Regions from separate parts of the Homo sapiens genome. Here region 1 is linked to region 2. The links come from fine-mapping of genetic effects on gene expression. Tissue or cell type: whole blood. Region 2 holds a variant in brackets; the other region holds the start of a gene. All regions are shown on one strand. Distances are from middle to middle.

Evidence for each region. PIP is the estimated chance that this variant, and not a neighbour inherited with it, causes the effect.
Region 1: PCDHGC3 starts here. The variant in region 2 is fine-mapped to the expression of PCDHGC3 in whole blood (TOPMed, PIP above 0.99). The same link has a PIP of 0.9 or more in blood mononuclear cells.

The regions. Positions count from the first base shown.
Region 1 is chr5:141,472,557-141,480,615 of GRCh38, forward strand. PCDHGC3 (protocadherin gamma subfamily C, 3) reads left to right here and starts at 3,410. Exons shown (of 4, transcript NM_002588.4): 1 at 3,410-5,990. The coding sequence starts at 3,561. All of the region lies in intron 1 of PCDHGA1 (protocadherin gamma subfamily A, 1), which reads left to right. All of the region lies in intron 1 of PCDHGA2 (protocadherin gamma subfamily A, 2), which reads left to right. The region is part of intron 1 of PCDHGA3 (protocadherin gamma subfamily A, 3); the gene reads left to right. It also overlaps PCDHGB1, PCDHGA4, PCDHGB2, PCDHGA5, PCDHGB3 and PCDHGA6, and 12 more genes. RefSeq lists enhancers at 3,150-3,259, 3,717-4,260.
Region 2 is chr5:141,503,332-141,511,390 of GRCh38, forward strand. It overlaps PCDHGA1 (protocadherin gamma subfamily A, 1), which reads left to right. Exons shown (of 4, transcript NM_018912.3): 3 at 2,062-2,150; 4 at 7,616-8,059. The coding sequence ends at 7,842. PCDHGA2 (protocadherin gamma subfamily A, 2) reads left to right here. Exons shown (of 4, transcript NM_018915.4): 3 at 2,062-2,150; 4 at 7,616-8,059. The coding sequence ends at 7,842. PCDHGA3 (protocadherin gamma subfamily A, 3) reads left to right here. Exons shown (of 4, transcript NM_018916.4): 3 at 2,062-2,150; 4 at 7,616-8,059. The coding sequence ends at 7,842. It overlaps PCDHGB1 (protocadherin gamma subfamily B, 1), which reads left to right. Exons shown (of 4, transcript NM_018922.3): 3 at 2,062-2,150; 4 at 7,616-8,059. The coding sequence ends at 7,842. It also overlaps PCDHGA4, PCDHGB2, PCDHGA5, PCDHGB3, PCDHGA6 and PCDHGA7, and 13 more genes. Among named protein-coding and RNA genes, the nearest start is that of PCDHGC5, 18 kb to the left of the region's middle. RefSeq lists enhancers at 4,285-4,334, 4,605-4,654, 5,510-6,010, 5,825-5,874, 7,185-7,274 and 1 more. The variant A/C (reference allele first, on the strand shown) is at 4,349.

The DNA.
Region 1 (8,059 bases), 31 kb before region 2:
ATTATAAATGCTGCATCTCATTGGTCAGAAGCTCTCTTGAAATTATAAAACAAAGAAGAAAAAAGATAAAGACTGGGAAATTGTGTTGAATCAGTATATAAATCCTGTATACTGGTCCTTCCATTTCCCCTAGAAATAAGTGATACAGGCCAGGCGCTGTGGCTCACACCTGTAATCCCAGCACTTTGGGAGGCGGAGGCTGGCAGATCACCTGAGGTTGGGAGTTCAAGATCAGCCTGACCAACATGGAGAAACCCCCGTCTCTACTAAAAATAGAAAATTAGCTGGGCATGGTGGCACATGCCTGTATTCCCAGCTACTCGGGAGGCTGAGGCAGGAGAATTGCTTGAACCCAAGAGGAGGAGGTTGTGGTGAGCCAAGATTATGCCATTGCACTCCAGCCTGGGGAACAAGAGTGAAACTCAAAAAAAAAAAAAAAAAGAAAGAAAAAGAAAAAGAAAGAAGGAAGGAAGGAAGGAAAGAAAGAAAGAAGTGATACAACAAGTTACAGCATCTTTGTTTATTATCCACTGTGAGTTGTATTACCACACTTTACTTGGCTCTTTGGCAAACTATATTATCTCTTCAGATCACTAGGGCTAGGAAGGCCCACTGGTAACTTGAAGGAGTAAATGTATCTTCTAAAAAATGCTTACTTCCAGGGAGATTGGATCCACACAAGTGAATACATATATAGTCCTTAGTGTATGCTATGATTATTTTACTATGTCAGTAGCATAAAGATTGCTATATTAATAAGCATTAAGTGCCTGCTGTGCTAGACAGTGAGGATGCAAGTGGCCACCAAAATAGCATGGTCCCTGCCCTCCTGGAGCTTCTTTTTTTCTTCTTCAGTGGGGGAAGCAGATACTTTGCTTATGCAAAAATAATTATAAAATTTAAAGTTGTGCCAAGTTCAATGGAAAAAATATAAGGTGTTCTGAGAGAGCATAACAAAGGATCCTGGTTTTAACTGGGGCCTAATGGAAGACCTCTATTAGGAAATAACATTTAAACTAAGACCAGACAGACCTGTAGAAATTAGCAAAGCAAAGGGAGGGAGGAAAAAGCAGCTTTCCTGGCAAAGGAACAATTTGTGTGAAGGCCCTGAGACAGGGAAGGGCTGGGGTTCTGACCACCCTCCAAGTGGTGCAATGGAATATAGTGAGAGAGGGAGAAGACATGAGAACTTGGATACTATGCAAAGGATTTGGTATTTTAATTCAAGAGCAGTATGATGCTACTGAGGAGCAGCTGGACAATTGTGTGATCCAATTAAAATTTTAGGAAGATGAACCTCGCTATTGTGGAGAATGCATACACAAGGGTTCTGTTGGTTCATGAAGAGGTCTTAAGAAAACTATGAGCTGGGTGCAGTAGCTCAGGCCTGTAGTCCCATCTACTTAGAAGTCTGAGGCGGGAGGATCCCTTGAGCCCAAGGAGCTGGAAGTTACAGTGAGCTATGATTATTCCACTGTACTCCAGCCTGGATGACAGAGCGAGATCCTGCCTCAGAAACAAAAACCAAAAAACAAACAACAACAAAAACAACAACAACGAAAATCTCAGAAAACTACAGGCCTTATTATCAAGAAAATGACAGGCCTTATTATTGAGAAAACTACTTACATTTTTAAAAGCTGATTTTCAAAAACCAGATTGTGAATTAAGTGATGCTGAATAGGGGAAAAAAAGACTGATAAACCAGTGTATCTCTGAATAACCCACTAGATCAGTGCTTGTCAAACTTTAATGTGTTTTCAAATCACCCTGATGTTTTGTTAAAATGTAAGTCATGTCTCAGTAGGTCTAGAGGAGGGCATTTCTGCATTTCTAACAAGCTCCCCGGTGATGCCTAGACCATTGGTCCTCACACTTTGAGTAGCAAGTGATTGGGCTATACTCTTTATTCTAAATTCTAAATGTATTCTATCTTCTAATGCCTATCAGCCCTCTTGCTGGTCTGGCTAATTATCAAACTTGAGCATTTAAAACTGGGGGTTTTCAGAGATTAATTGAAGTGTTAAAGACATGGAAATATAGGTCACATATGGCTTTTCATCTCTTCCGGAAATATCCTATATATCCTTACTTCTTTTCTACCTACCTAACCTATGTGCCTACCCCTTCACTTATGTTCAAGGTTCTATTATACTTCAAAAGGACTCTATGCAATCAAAGTGATGTCCAAGACAAATATACAGAAATAGTATGAGGCTCTAACACTTTACATCTAATGGAGTGGTTTGCATCATTAATTGAGGCTTACTCTGTGCCAGGCACTTTACCTGCCTTCTTCATTTAATAGGATAGGAGCAGGAACTCTTAGAGGTTCATTTCTTGTTCAAGGATATACATCTCATCTCTGGCTTATATCACAGTGGACTCTTTTATTCACTATCCTAATCATTATAATTTTGTTTGGTGACAACAATTCTAAATGCAGAAAAGTTAAGGCTCTTTATTCTGTGACTAAAGGCTTTGTATTTTCTAAAGATTTGTGGAGCTTTGCTGCCATTATTTCAATAATTTTATAAAGATCCTAGGTGGTAAATAGGCCTGGCTTTTTTTCTTTTTGAAATCTTCTCCGTCTTCTTCTTCATTAGCAGTGCAACTTCTTGTGGCATATGGTACCCAAGATCTTGGGAAAAGGATTGATCAAGTAAAGGGAAACGATAGAGAGAGTGTGCTCTACAACTGAGATCATGCTCCTTGTGAAAGACAGGGTAGGGAAATTTCTTATTGCTCCCTGGTTCTTAAGAAATGAGAGCTAACAATGACATCCAGTTTTAAAAGAAATAAAATCTGAATTGTACTTTTAAATTTTATAAGCCAGAGTTAAACCAATAGATTGTAACTCCTGCTAATTTGATAGTAGCTCCAGATAATGAGGAAGTGACAGGGAATGCTAATTTCATTTGGTAAGAGATAAAACTGAAATTATTAATGTCTCCACGGAAATGCTAAATGCCTCCTTACAAGTAGGGTCCGGCTAATTGTCTGTCTTCCAACAAGCCAGATTTGTTGGTGTTTTTCCAGACAATGTTGTGTAGTTTTCGGTTTGGTTCGATCCCCTTTCTTGTGATCAAAGAAAGTGATTCAAATGTTTAATGAGTCTTGATTTGGATTGGAGACTTGCAGAACGGCTAGCCTCACAGCCCCAAGGCTGGCTTTCCCTAAGGTAGGTTTCCTATGCACCGATACTGGCAAGGCGCTTTGGCTGGAAACTCTGGAAGGAAGCCAAAGGAAAGTGAAGTTCCTGGCGCTAGCGCGTGTCCTGCTCAGAGAGCCCGGCGCTAGCTCATTCTTCGTGCAGTTATTGGCTGGGACTCTGTGTGCCGCTGTCGGCCAATGAAGACGCTGGAGATCGGGCCCCTGCCCGTCCCCTTTCTGCGCCCCGGGATGAGGCAGAGACTGAACAGCCGGCGAGCAAATCAACGGCATCCAGAAAGCCATGTCGGACTCGGCGCCCAGCGCCCAAGCGCTAACCCGCTGAAAGTTTCTCAGCGAAATCTCAGGGACGATCTGGACCCCGCTGAGAGGAACTGCTTTTGAGTGAGATGGTCCCAGAGGCCTGGAGGAGCGGACTGGTAAGCACCGGGAGGGTAGTGGGAGTTTTGCTTCTGCTTGGTGCCTTGAACAAGGCTTCCACGGTCATTCACTATGAGATCCCGGAGGAAAGAGAGAAGGGTTTCGCTGTGGGCAACGTGGTCGCGAACCTTGGTTTGGATCTCGGTAGCCTCTCAGCCCGCAGGTTCCGGGTGGTGTCTGGAGCTAGCCGAAGATTCTTTGAGGTGAACCGGGAGACCGGAGAGATGTTTGTGAACGACCGTCTGGATCGAGAGGAGCTGTGTGGGACACTGCCCTCTTGCACTGTAACTCTGGAGTTGGTAGTGGAGAACCCGCTGGAGCTGTTCAGCGTGGAAGTGGTGATCCAGGACATCAACGACAACAATCCTGCTTTCCCTACCCAGGAAATGAAATTGGAGATTAGCGAGGCCGTGGCTCCGGGGACGCGCTTTCCGCTCGAGAGCGCGCACGATCCCGATGTGGGAAGCAACTCTTTACAAACCTATGAGCTGAGCCGAAATGAATACTTTGCGCTTCGCGTGCAGACGCGGGAGGACAGCACCAAGTACGCGGAGCTGGTGTTGGAGCGCGCCCTGGACCGAGAACGGGAGCCTAGTCTCCAGTTAGTGCTGACGGCGTTGGACGGAGGGACCCCAGCTCTCTCCGCCAGCCTGCCTATTCACATCAAGGTGCTGGACGCGAATGACAATGCGCCTGTCTTCAACCAGTCCTTGTACCGGGCGCGCGTCCTGGAGGATGCACCCTCCGGCACGCGCGTGGTACAAGTCCTTGCAACGGATCTGGATGAAGGCCCCAACGGTGAAATTATTTACTCCTTCGGCAGCCACAACCGCGCCGGCGTGCGGCAACTATTCGCCTTAGACCTTGTAACCGGGATGCTGACAATCAAGGGTCGGCTGGACTTCGAGGACACCAAACTCCATGAGATTTACATCCAGGCCAAAGACAAGGGCGCCAATCCCGAAGGAGCACATTGCAAAGTGTTGGTGGAGGTTGTGGATGTGAATGACAACGCCCCGGAGATCACAGTCACCTCCGTGTACAGCCCAGTACCCGAGGATGCCCCTCTGGGGACTGTCATCGCTTTGCTCAGTGTGACTGACCTGGATGCTGGCGAGAACGGGCTGGTGACCTGCGAAGTTCCACCGGGTCTCCCTTTCAGCCTTACTTCTTCCCTCAAGAATTACTTCACTTTGAAAACCAGTGCAGACCTGGATCGGGAGACTGTGCCAGAATACAACCTCAGCATCACCGCCCGAGACGCCGGAACCCCTTCCCTCTCAGCCCTTACAATAGTGCGTGTTCAAGTGTCCGACATCAATGACAACCCTCCACAATCTTCTCAATCTTCCTACGACGTTTACATTGAAGAAAACAACCTCCCCGGGGCTCCAATACTAAACCTAAGTGTCTGGGACCCCGACGCCCCGCAGAATGCTCGGCTTTCTTTCTTTCTCTTGGAGCAAGGAGCTGAAACCGGGCTAGTGGGTCGCTATTTCACAATAAATCGTGACAATGGCATAGTGTCATCCTTAGTGCCCCTAGACTATGAGGATCGGCGGGAATTTGAATTAACAGCTCATATCAGCGATGGGGGCACCCCGGTCCTAGCCACCAACATCAGCGTGAACATATTTGTCACTGATCGCAATGACAATGCCCCCCAGGTCCTATATCCTCGGCCAGGTGGGAGCTCGGTGGAGATGCTGCCTCGAGGTACCTCAGCTGGCCACCTAGTGTCACGGGTGGTAGGCTGGGACGCGGATGCAGGGCACAATGCCTGGCTCTCCTACAGTCTCTTGGGATCCCCTAACCAGAGCCTTTTTGCCATAGGGCTGCACACTGGTCAAATCAGTACTGCCCGTCCAGTCCAAGACACAGATTCACCCAGGCAGACTCTCACGGTCTTGATCAAAGACAATGGGGAGCCTTCGCTCTCCACCACTGCTACCCTCACTGTGTCAGTAACCGAGGACTCTCCTGAAGCCCGAGCCGAGTTCCCCTCTGGCTCTGCCCCCCGGGAGCAGAAAAAAAATCTCACCTTTTATCTACTTCTTTCTCTAATCCTGGTTTCTGTGGGGTTTGTGGTCACAGTGTTCGGAGTAATCATATTCAAAGTTTACAAGTGGAAGCAGTCTAGAGACCTATACCGAGCCCCGGTGAGCTCACTGTACCGAACACCAGGGCCCTCCTTGCACGCGGACGCCGTGCGGGGAGGCCTGATGTCGCCGCACCTTTACCATCAGGTGTATCTCACCACGGACTCCCGCCGCAGCGACCCGCTGCTGAAGAAACCTGGTGCAGCCAGTCCACTGGCCAGCCGCCAGAACACGCTGCGGAGCTGTGATCCGGTGTTCTATAGGCAGGTGTTGGGTGCAGAGAGCGCCCCTCCCGGACAGGTAAGGTTTAGCAAGTCATGCTTGACCCTGTTAGTGCTTTTTTATTCCTACATCATATTGAGGAAGGAATGGAGCTGTTTTTTTAGTGATGAAGATGTTTTCCTGGTGATGCATTCACACTTTCAACTGGCCCTTCCTAGATCAAAGTTAGTGCCTTTGTGAGATGGTGGCCTGCCAGAGTGTGGTTTGTGGTCCCATTTCAGGGGGAAGATACTTGACTCATCTGTGGACCTAATTCACATCCTCAGCACTCTTTTGCTATCACAACTAACCAATCTTGCTAAGGGATGGTTAAGCTAAAACACAAGATCTCAGCGATCAGAGTTTAGCTTGGTATCATTTACATTAGGAATAAGCTGCTGGATACCTCTAACCAGTGGCAGCTTCTAGGAATACAAAAACTACCTCATTCCTCCACCTTTCAAGTGATTGTGACATTTGTATTAAAACTAATAGCTTTTTGATAATTTTCCTTTGTTTATACAGATCGTGTACCTCATTCTCAGATAATTTTTTATGAATGAAATGAAATTCCAGGCATCCTTTAAATTTTATTTCAAGCATTCTACTGGAAATGATGTGCACCCTGCTTACAAAATATTTTTACCTTATAACAGTAATGCATGTTTGCTAGAAAATTCAGAAAATACAGAAAAGTATTTAAAAAATTAAAACTATAATCTCCAAACCCAAAGATAACCATTTTTAATTATAAAAGTAATAATTTATTTCAAAAATAAATCTAGGCAACCCAAGAAAACATAAAGTAGCCAGACTCAGTGGTGTGCACCTGTAGTTCTTGCTGCTCAGTGCCTGAGGTGGGAGGATTGCTTGAGCCCAGGAGTTCTGGGCTGTGGTGCACTATGCTGATCAATTGATCAATCCACTGTCTGCACTAAGTTCAGCATGAATACAGTGACCTCTTGGGAGGGCAGGACCATCAGGTTGCCTAAAGAGGGGTGAACTGGCCCAGGTTGGAAGTGGAGAAGGTCAAAACTGCTGTGCTATCCAGTAGTGGGATGACATCTGTGAATAGCCACTGCACTCCAGCCTAGGCAATATAGGGAAACCATGTCTCTTTAACAATAACAACAACAACAACAACAATCCCAGAAACTACAAAAGGAGAGTCTTTTTGGTGCCTCCAGTGTTAGTCCCTGTCCTTCCAGCCTTATTTTTCTTAAGTATATGCACAATGTGAAAGGTAGATAAATTCATATCCTTAGACAGGTAAAGCATTCATTAATTCAGGGTGGTATGCAAGGATACTATCCAAGGCATGGTATCCATGCAAGGTGACTGCAAGGCCTTTGCCCTGGAGAGAACCCTATACATACTCTCAACTGTAGGAGAAACACTGTTATTTTGTTACTCAGTGCATCATTGCTATCAACTCTTGGATTTGGCAGTTAGTCAAATGAGGTTCTACCATTTACCAACTAGGAGTCTGTGGCCAAGTTACTCAATCTCCTTTCTAAGCCTCTTCCTCATATGCAAAAAGGGAATAATAAGTGTTTTATAAGATTCATGCATGATATAATGTATGCAAAGTGTTTAGCATGGTGCCTGGCATATCATAACTGTTAAACAATTATTAGCCAGCTCCTAGCATTTTGGGAGGCTGAGGCAGGCGGATTGCTTGAGGCCAGCAGTTCAAGACCAGCCTGAGCGACATAGTGAGATCCTGTCTCTACAAAAAAAAAAAAAAATGTGTTTTCATTAGCTGGGTGTGTTGGCATGCACCTGTGGTACCAGCTACTTGGGAGGCTGAAGTGGGAGAATTGCTTGAGCCTGGGAGGTTGAAGCTACAGTCAGCTGTGATTGCACCACTACACTTCAACCATGGCAATAGAGTGAGACCCTGTCTCAAAAAAAAAAATTATCAGCTATTACTATAATTATTTTTATTAGTTCCTCACTCACCTAAAATCTCAAACACACCTTAGAAATACACATATGAGAACAACCAAAAATGACAAAGTAGAAGCACATATGAAAAGGCTAAGAAAGCATGAAAGCCAGCAAGAAATAACTGCCGCTCTTCTGGTCAGCCTGGAAAGCAACTGGCA
Region 2 (8,059 bases):
CACGCCTGTAATTCCAGCACTTTGGGAAGCGGAGGCAGGTGGATCATGAGGTCAGGAGTTCGAAACCAACCTGGCCAATATGGTGAAACCCCATCTCTACTAAAAATACAAAAATTCGCTGGGCATGGTGGCATGTGTGCACTTGTCGTCCCAGCTGCTCAAGAGGCTGAGGCAGGAGAATCACTTGAACCTGGGAGGCAGAGGTTGCAGTGAGCCGAGATCGCGCCACTGTACTCCAGCCTGGGTGACAGAGCGAGACTCCAGCTCAAAAAAAAAAAAAAAAGAAAAAAGAAAAGAAATAATTATTGAATCAATGGAAACAGAATTACAACTCTTCCCACTTTTGGGAAGGAGAATTGAGATTCCTGCTTTCCCCTTCAACCCTAGCTTTATGTTTGTTGTGATGGTATAGAGGTCACACATGGCAGCCTTGTGTCTGTTCTTAGGCTGAGTTCATCTACTTAGGGACGGGGAATCCCAGATTGGGCAAAACCAAAAGCAGGGACAGACCTTGGAAAAATTGTAAAGCAGTTCTTGGTTGTGCTCACCCACCATGACAAAATATGCACACACACAACGCAACACACACACAGACATTTTCATGCCTTCAAGGCCTACCCTACAGCCTTTCCCATGGTGCCAAACCCTTCTTCTTACCTTACAGTCACTTAACTGTCTCTGCTGGTCTCTTCCCACTCATTTAGGCAACAAATATTTATTGAAAAACTTCTCTGAGCCAGATGGTGCCAAACAGTTACCTAAAGGGCAGACTGTGTGTGTGCCAGGGCTGTTTCCCGCCAACACTCCCCTGCAAATTGAAATAATTTCATCCTTGGAAATTCAAAAAAATCATGAAAATTGTCACTGTGGGAAAATTCCAAGTAGAGCTGAACCTTCTAAGAAGCAGAGAGTTCTTCTTATGGTTTAGTATTTTTTTAAATTATGAATCATTTCATGTTTTTTCAACACTCGGAGTTTCTAAAAGTCTCACTTAGGTCCAAGTGCTAGGCTTTGTGCTAGGTGCTTCAGTAGGAAGCAGGTGGAGTCGCTGCCTCACAGAAGCCAGTGTGGTGGAGGAACAGACAGGCACTACAACAGCTGCAGTGTGACTAGTGCCATGTGGGGCAGCCGCTGGGATGGGAGTACAGTGGAGGCACCTGCCCAGTCTGAGTGGATCTCCTCTGATATATTTTATTCGTGTCATCATGGCAAATGTTGGGGGACTGGCATTCTAGGGAACACCATCTGCCCAGGATTCACAGCAAGAGGGAACTTGAGGGATAGGAAAGTGCACCTTGGAAAAGGTTTGATGATAGAGTGTTTGAGGGCGGGGGGTGGGGGTTCTTGTAAAATAGGAGGGGCAGGTTCTTCTATGGCCGTGGATTTTACTCTGAGGGCTTAGGAAGCCATTGAATTTTAGAAATTTCTTCTCCCTGCTCCAGGGTCTCTTGGGGCCTCCTACATCTCCCCCTAGGTACCTCCTAGGTCCCCACTTTTTCTCTAGCTCTGGAACATTCTCTTCCATTTCCCACCTTCACAGTCCTCTGGAGAAGGTCTGATCTCCCTCACTATGACAGGAAGCCAGGCTCTCTCATGGTGGGTGGGGGAATGCACTATGTTCAATGCATTGGACCAGCCTGGCCAACATGGTGAAACCCCGTCTGTACTAAAAATACAAAAATTAGCCTGGCACAGTGGCAGGTGCCTGTCATCCCAGCTACTTGGGAGACTGAGGCAGGAGAATCGCTTGAACCCAGGAGGTGGATGTTGCAATGAGCCAAGATCGCGCCACTGCACTCCAGCCTGGATGACAGAGTAAGACCCTGTCTAAAACAAAAAGAAAAAAGCATCGGAGGCAGCAAAGAGCTGGTTTGAGGGACTGACTTGTGGGATTCTGGCTTCTGAAGGATTGTAGAAGTGCCTCCTACCTTGCTGAGAGAAACAGGTCTTGGGCATGGGGTAGGGTTAGGGTACTAGGTTTGGGAGCCCTGGGAGAGGACAGGAGGGGCATGAGCTGTGCCGGCCTGGGAGTCTGTGCTCACCATCCTACTCTCTCCCCAGCTCCCAAAATGGCGATGACACCGGCACCTGGCCCAACAACCAGTTTGACACAGAGATGCTGCAAGCCATGATCTTGGCGTCCGCCAGTGGTAAGTGGTGTCAGTGTGTGTATGGAAGAGTGGGAGACCTGGGGTTCTGGGGTGCATCTCACAGCCACCATGCCCACGGACTGGATGTCAAACCTGTGTAGTTTCTCCAGATCTTTCGGCAGGTCTGAAAGGACCCACAATTCCAAACATAAAGCCTGGAATTGTGGCTAAGGAACAGCAGAGGGGTTGGGGGTCCTGGGATGCCTGGAGGAGAGCGAACAAGGAAAAGACTCATGGAGGGAATAGTGGTTACAAGTCTAGCTCTGGAATGGGACAGTGTAGCTCAGGTCCTAGCTCTGCTACTATCCTTGGGACTTGGATCGACTTGCTCAATCTCTCTAAACCTCAGTTTCCTCAGCCTAGAAAGTGGGGACAGGGACCCCAAAGGGTTGTTGTAGAGATTAAATGAGATGATACCACAAAGCATAGAGTTCTGGGCCTGGCGCTTGGAAGCCCTCAAGCAATGAAAGTGGGTGTAGAAATCCCCAGCCGAGAGAACACCTCCTCTTTATGCGAGGCTCCTCTTTTGCTGCCCCTAACTCCAGAGTAGGATTCTGGTTTTCCCATAAGGTTGACTAAGGGCTTCCTTTGTAATAGAGATTCGGCTAGTGGTGGTTGTCCCTGAAGAGTCACTAGGGCCCAGAGCAGGAGAAGAAGAATATCATTTGTCCTTAAGAGCACAGCCTAAGCTGGGCGTGGTGGCTCACGCCTGTAATCCCAGCACTTTGGGAAGCTGAGGCAGGAGGATCATGAGGTCAGGAGTTCGAAACCGGCCTGGCCAACATAGTGAAACCCTGTCTCTACTAAAAATACAAAAATTAGCTGGGCATGGTGGTGCGTGCCTGTAGTCCCAGCTACTTGGGAGGCTGAGGCAGGAGAATCGCTTGAACCTGGGAGGTGGCTGTGGTGAGCAGAAAATCGCACCACTGCACTCCAGCCTGGGCAACAGTCTCGCTCTGTCTCAAAAAAAAAAAAAAAAAAAAAGAGCACAGGCTTTAGAGGCAGGCCAATCTGGATTCAAATCCTGGCACCTGGCACCACCACTTAGCAATGAGTCCTTAGGTAAGTTATTAAACCCCCTCGGTTTCACTTACTATTAATGGGCACAGTATTAACGGATCTCATTGTGGTGTTACCAGGGCCAAATGCAAGTCCCTCAGCACAGGATTGGCAGAGAGTAAGGGCACAATATATTATTATCTTTGCTGACCCAAACCCGTTTTTTACTGGGTAGAAAGCAGAATTAGAATAATGCCTATTAATAAAGACTAGCTTCTGGAGCAGCAAATCCTGGGCTTATAAGGAGGCTGGCAGAGGATCAAGGCATTGCCCTATATCATGAACTGATAGCCCTGCCCTCCAGCATGTCTGGAGGACTGGTGGGTAGAGAACCAGGTGAAATCACAAGAAGCACTGTCATCACACCTGGGCACATACTAAACAAACTTTAGGGGCCTCCTGTCAATGAATCCTCTCAATAGCTCTGCAAGGCAGGTCTGATTTCTCACACTCGACAGATGAGAGAACCGAGAAGGCACTTGCCCCAGGGTCCTCAGTTTTGAGCTGCCAAGCTGAGGTTCTAACCTGGCTCAACTCCTAAGTTTATGCTCTTTCTACTATAGGGACCATGGCTGCCTTTGGATCCAGCCTCGGCTTCTCTATTACCTGAGCAGGATGAGAGGCTGTCCTCTTCCTCGAGCTCTGCTTTATTCTTCCAGATCAGGGTTGCCAGATAAAATACAGGATGCCCAGTTACAGTTGAATGTCAGATAAACAGCAAGTACTATTTCAGCATAAGTCAGTCTCAAATGTTGCATGAGACATAATGTACTAAAAAAAAAAATGCTCATTGTTTACCTGAAATTCAAATTTAACTGGGAGCCCTGTACTTTTATTTACTAAATCTGGCAACTCTACCCCAGATGTCTGTGAGGTTAAGTGGGGCCAGGCCTACAGCTGACGGAAGGACAGAGAGAGAGGTGGCAGGGACTGCTGGCCTCCTGAGGCAGAGCTGTCCCAGGTCTGGTGGGGCTATGATTCCAGAGAGGCCAGAGACTGAGTATGAAAGTGGCAGGCGGCTGGGTCTGAGGAGATGCCAAGTTGGCCTCTTGAGGGAAATAAACAGGTATATTTAGCTGTTGTGGCCTTGCGCCCTGAGGCCAGGAAGCAGCTTTTTAGCCTAAATCCAGATGTTAAAA[A/C]CAGAAATGAAATCAGTATTTATGGCCCCAAACCCTCCAAGCAAGTCATGCAGCTCGTTCCCCTGTCAAGGCCTCCCACCTTTGGCCCACACAGGGCCTGACCCTCGTCTAAGCCTGCGCCCTGGGGAACGGACCCTGGGGGTGGAGGTGGTGGGTCAGGCCCTGCTCTCACTTTCACACCCGCTTCCTAGCCCTGAAACCAGAGAGGTTCCTGAAGTCCAGCCCAGCCAGGCCTGTGGGGCTGCTGAGAGGGGTTAAGTAAGAGGGAGAGTAAAAACCGACACTTGGGAGGAGGCTTTTAAAATAAACATCTGCGGGGAGGGATGCTCTCAAGGAGGCTGCGGTTTGCAGCTCAGCCAGCTGTGTTCCAGCTAATCAGCCTCCTTGGGCTACTCTGGAGTTGCTGCCTTGGCCCTGGGATGGGGTAGGTTAAGAGGACAGAGGGAGGTCAGGGAGCTGGGGGCTGAGTTTCCCTGAGTAGAGGCTGGCACAGGAGAGAAGGCATCACCCCCACCTCGTCCAGGCCAGAAGATGTCCAGCTTCTTGAGGCTCTCCTAAGTCTGCCTCTCCTGGGACCAAGAGAAAATCCCGGTCCTTGACCAAGGTGGGCCTTGGGGGGAGTGGGGTGTAGAGGGAGGGGCACTGGAGAACTGACTCTACAGAAAGTCAAAGCTGGCAATCCAACTTCTTCCCCTCAGATTTATAGATGGGAAAACAGGCTTGAGCCACGCAGAGACTTGACCAAGCTCACACAGTTCCTTAGTGGCAGAGCAGAGCAAATATTCTCTTTCTTTTACATTCTGGATTTCCATATCTTCTCTCCCTCCTGGTCCAGCCCAACCTCAGGGCACCCCCCACGAGGTGGGCGGGGGATGGCTTTGTCACTTGCACCCACTCGGGGTGCTACTCAGAGATCTTGGGTGCACATAGGACGTGGGTGGGCCGAGCTTCTAGCTACTCCGTCAGGCCCTTCCTGTCATTCTGTCTCTGCCTCCCTTCTCCCTGCTTCTCCGTGTTCCTCCTCATTCTTTTCTGTGTGCAGGGAGACTACACCCCCCACCCCGCTCTTTCTCTGGCGCCTCTGAGGTCCCCCCTCTAGCCCCTAAATCACTCTGGAATCCTGGCTCTTTGAAGCCAGATCTGGGCCCCCCTCCCCTACCCCTTCCATTCCCAGGCTGGGAAAGGCTGAAGAGGCTGACGGCTGGAGGGGAGGGGGCGGGGCGGTGGCGGATCTGGCTTCCTTTTGGAGTTAATTAGGGAAAACAGAGAAATGTCAGCGGAATGAAAGGGCTGGGGGTGGGGGCCAGCTGGGGTAGGAGAGGAGGAAGTGGGCAGCTGCTCCCTCCCACTCAACCCCTCTCCCCCGCCCCCAGAAAGCTCTCAGCTCCGGGGATTTGCGACATGAAATGGGGGCTGTAGAAACCTGAGCGCTGGTGCGTGAAGAGAAAAACCGAGGCGCATCCCGGCTCTCCCCTCCCGTGTGCCCTCCTCCTCTTATGCCGGCTTGAAAATATTTCCTGTCTCTCTATTTCTCAATCCCTGGTTGATGTCCCAGGATTACTCAGCCTCTCCGGCTTTAGTCACTCTCGCTACCCGCTCCCAGGGTCCAGGGTGGAGGCAGAGGGAGGCTGGGAGAGAAGCTCTACTGCCAGCTGGGCCTGGGCTGGCCTGGGCATCCCTGAGGTTTTAACTGTCTCCTAACCACAGAGGATCTCAGGGCCTCCAGCAGCGAGCCCCAATGAGTCAAACTCTTGTTTCCTCCTCTCCCACCCCCGACCCAGTCAGGGCAGGTGAGGGGTAGAGGTGATGGCATGCTGGATGTGACGGTGTTGATGATGTATTGCACAGGATGAAGCACCATCTCATTTAGTCCTCACAGCAGCCTTCACAGTGCGTACAAATCAGCTGGCAATTCCGAGAGGCTGCATTCTAAACAAGTTCCTGGGTGATGCTGAGCCAGGGCCAGAGTGTGGACTTCTCTGGGCCCCAGTTTCTTCTTCTGTACAGTGGGACGTTGGACTGGAGGTGCTGTCTGATGTCACCTAGCTGTGGCACTCTGAGCCTGTGCCTAAAGTGTCCCTGAGATGTCTAGTCCCCGAGATCATCATCTCCTCAGCTTCATAGAGCCGAGCTCTTCTCCATCTTCTCTCTACCTCCCATTCACTCAGAACAGGGATAAGGTCCAAGCTGCTGGTGGTGATGGTGACTGACTGTCCCTTCCAGCATGCGCTTAGGTACACTTGGGCCTGAATGCCCCTCTAACAAATGCTACCGGGTATGGCCTTGGTCCTTCTAACACTTGGTTCCCTCATCTGTAAAATGAGGGTCATACCACATAGCTGGCTGGGCTGTTATGTAGAGGTTAAAAGTGATTGTGCATGTGAAGCATCCAGCAGAGTGCCTGGCACACAGTAGGTGCTCAAATGCTGTTTTGAAATACAAAAATTAGCTGGGCTAGTGGTGTGCACCTGTAATCTCAGCTACTCAGGAGGTTGAGGCAGGAGAATCACTTGAGCCCAGGAGGCAGAGGTTGCAGTGAGCCGGGATCGCGCCACTGCACTCCAGGCTGGGCGACAGAGCAGGACTCCATCTTAAAAAAAAAAAAAAAAAAATGCTGTTTTGAAATGGAGGCTTGGAAGAGCACTCTTCACCCCCACCCCACACACTTACTAACGGAACTACCGAATCTCTACTCGTGCCAGGCCTTGCTTGGCAAAGGCTAGGGGCATGTAAAGCCATGGTTTCATGGCTGCTGCCCTCCAGGAGCCCATGGTCTAGTGTGGGAGTCAGAGGCTCCCTTGAGAAAGCCAGGGCAAGGAACTGAGAGCCCGTGTCACAGCCCTGAGAGAAATACCAGCGAATGTGTTTTGAGCACTTACATCTACCAGGCACTATTTTACGTACCTGACATACATTTTCTTATTTAGCATTCACTAAAACCAGAAGAGGTGGTTACCATTATCATCCCCATTTTGCAGATGAGAAAACTGAAGTGGCATAAGGAGGTTAGGTAGACTTGCCCAGGATCACAGTGAGTAAGGAAAGGAGCTAGGAATCAAACCTAGACTTTCTCACTCCAGAGCCTCTTAACCTCTACCCTCAACTCTTGTGAAGAGAGACTACCTTGGTGACCCCTATATTCCCAGTGCTCAGCGTGGTCAAGGCCCAGGGTGCTGTATAGGCATTCATTAACTGCTGGGGATATAAGACAGTGACTGTTGAGGACCCTAAGTTTAGCTCCCACCTGATCTTCCTCTGTCTCTGCAGAAGCTGCTGATGGGAGCTCCACCCTGGGAGGGGGTGCCGGCACCATGGGATTGAGCGCCCGCTACGGACCCCAGTTCACCCTGCAGCACGTGCCCGACTACCGCCAGAATGTCTACATCCCAGGCAGCAATGCCACACTGACCAACGCAGCTGGCAAGCGGGATGGCAAGGCCCCAGCAGGTGGCAATGGCAACAAGAAGAAGTCGGGCAAGAAGGAGAAGAAGTAACATGGAGGCCAGGCCAAGAGCCACAGGGCGGCCTCTCCCCAACCAGCCCAGCTTCTCCTTACCTGCACCCAGGCCTCAGAGTTTCAGGGCTAACCCCCAGAATACTGGTAGGGGCCAAGGCCATGCTCCCCTTGGGAAACAGAAACAAGTGCCCAGTCAGCACCTACCCCTTCCCCCCCAGGGGGTTGAATATGCAAAAGCAGTTCCGCTGGGAACC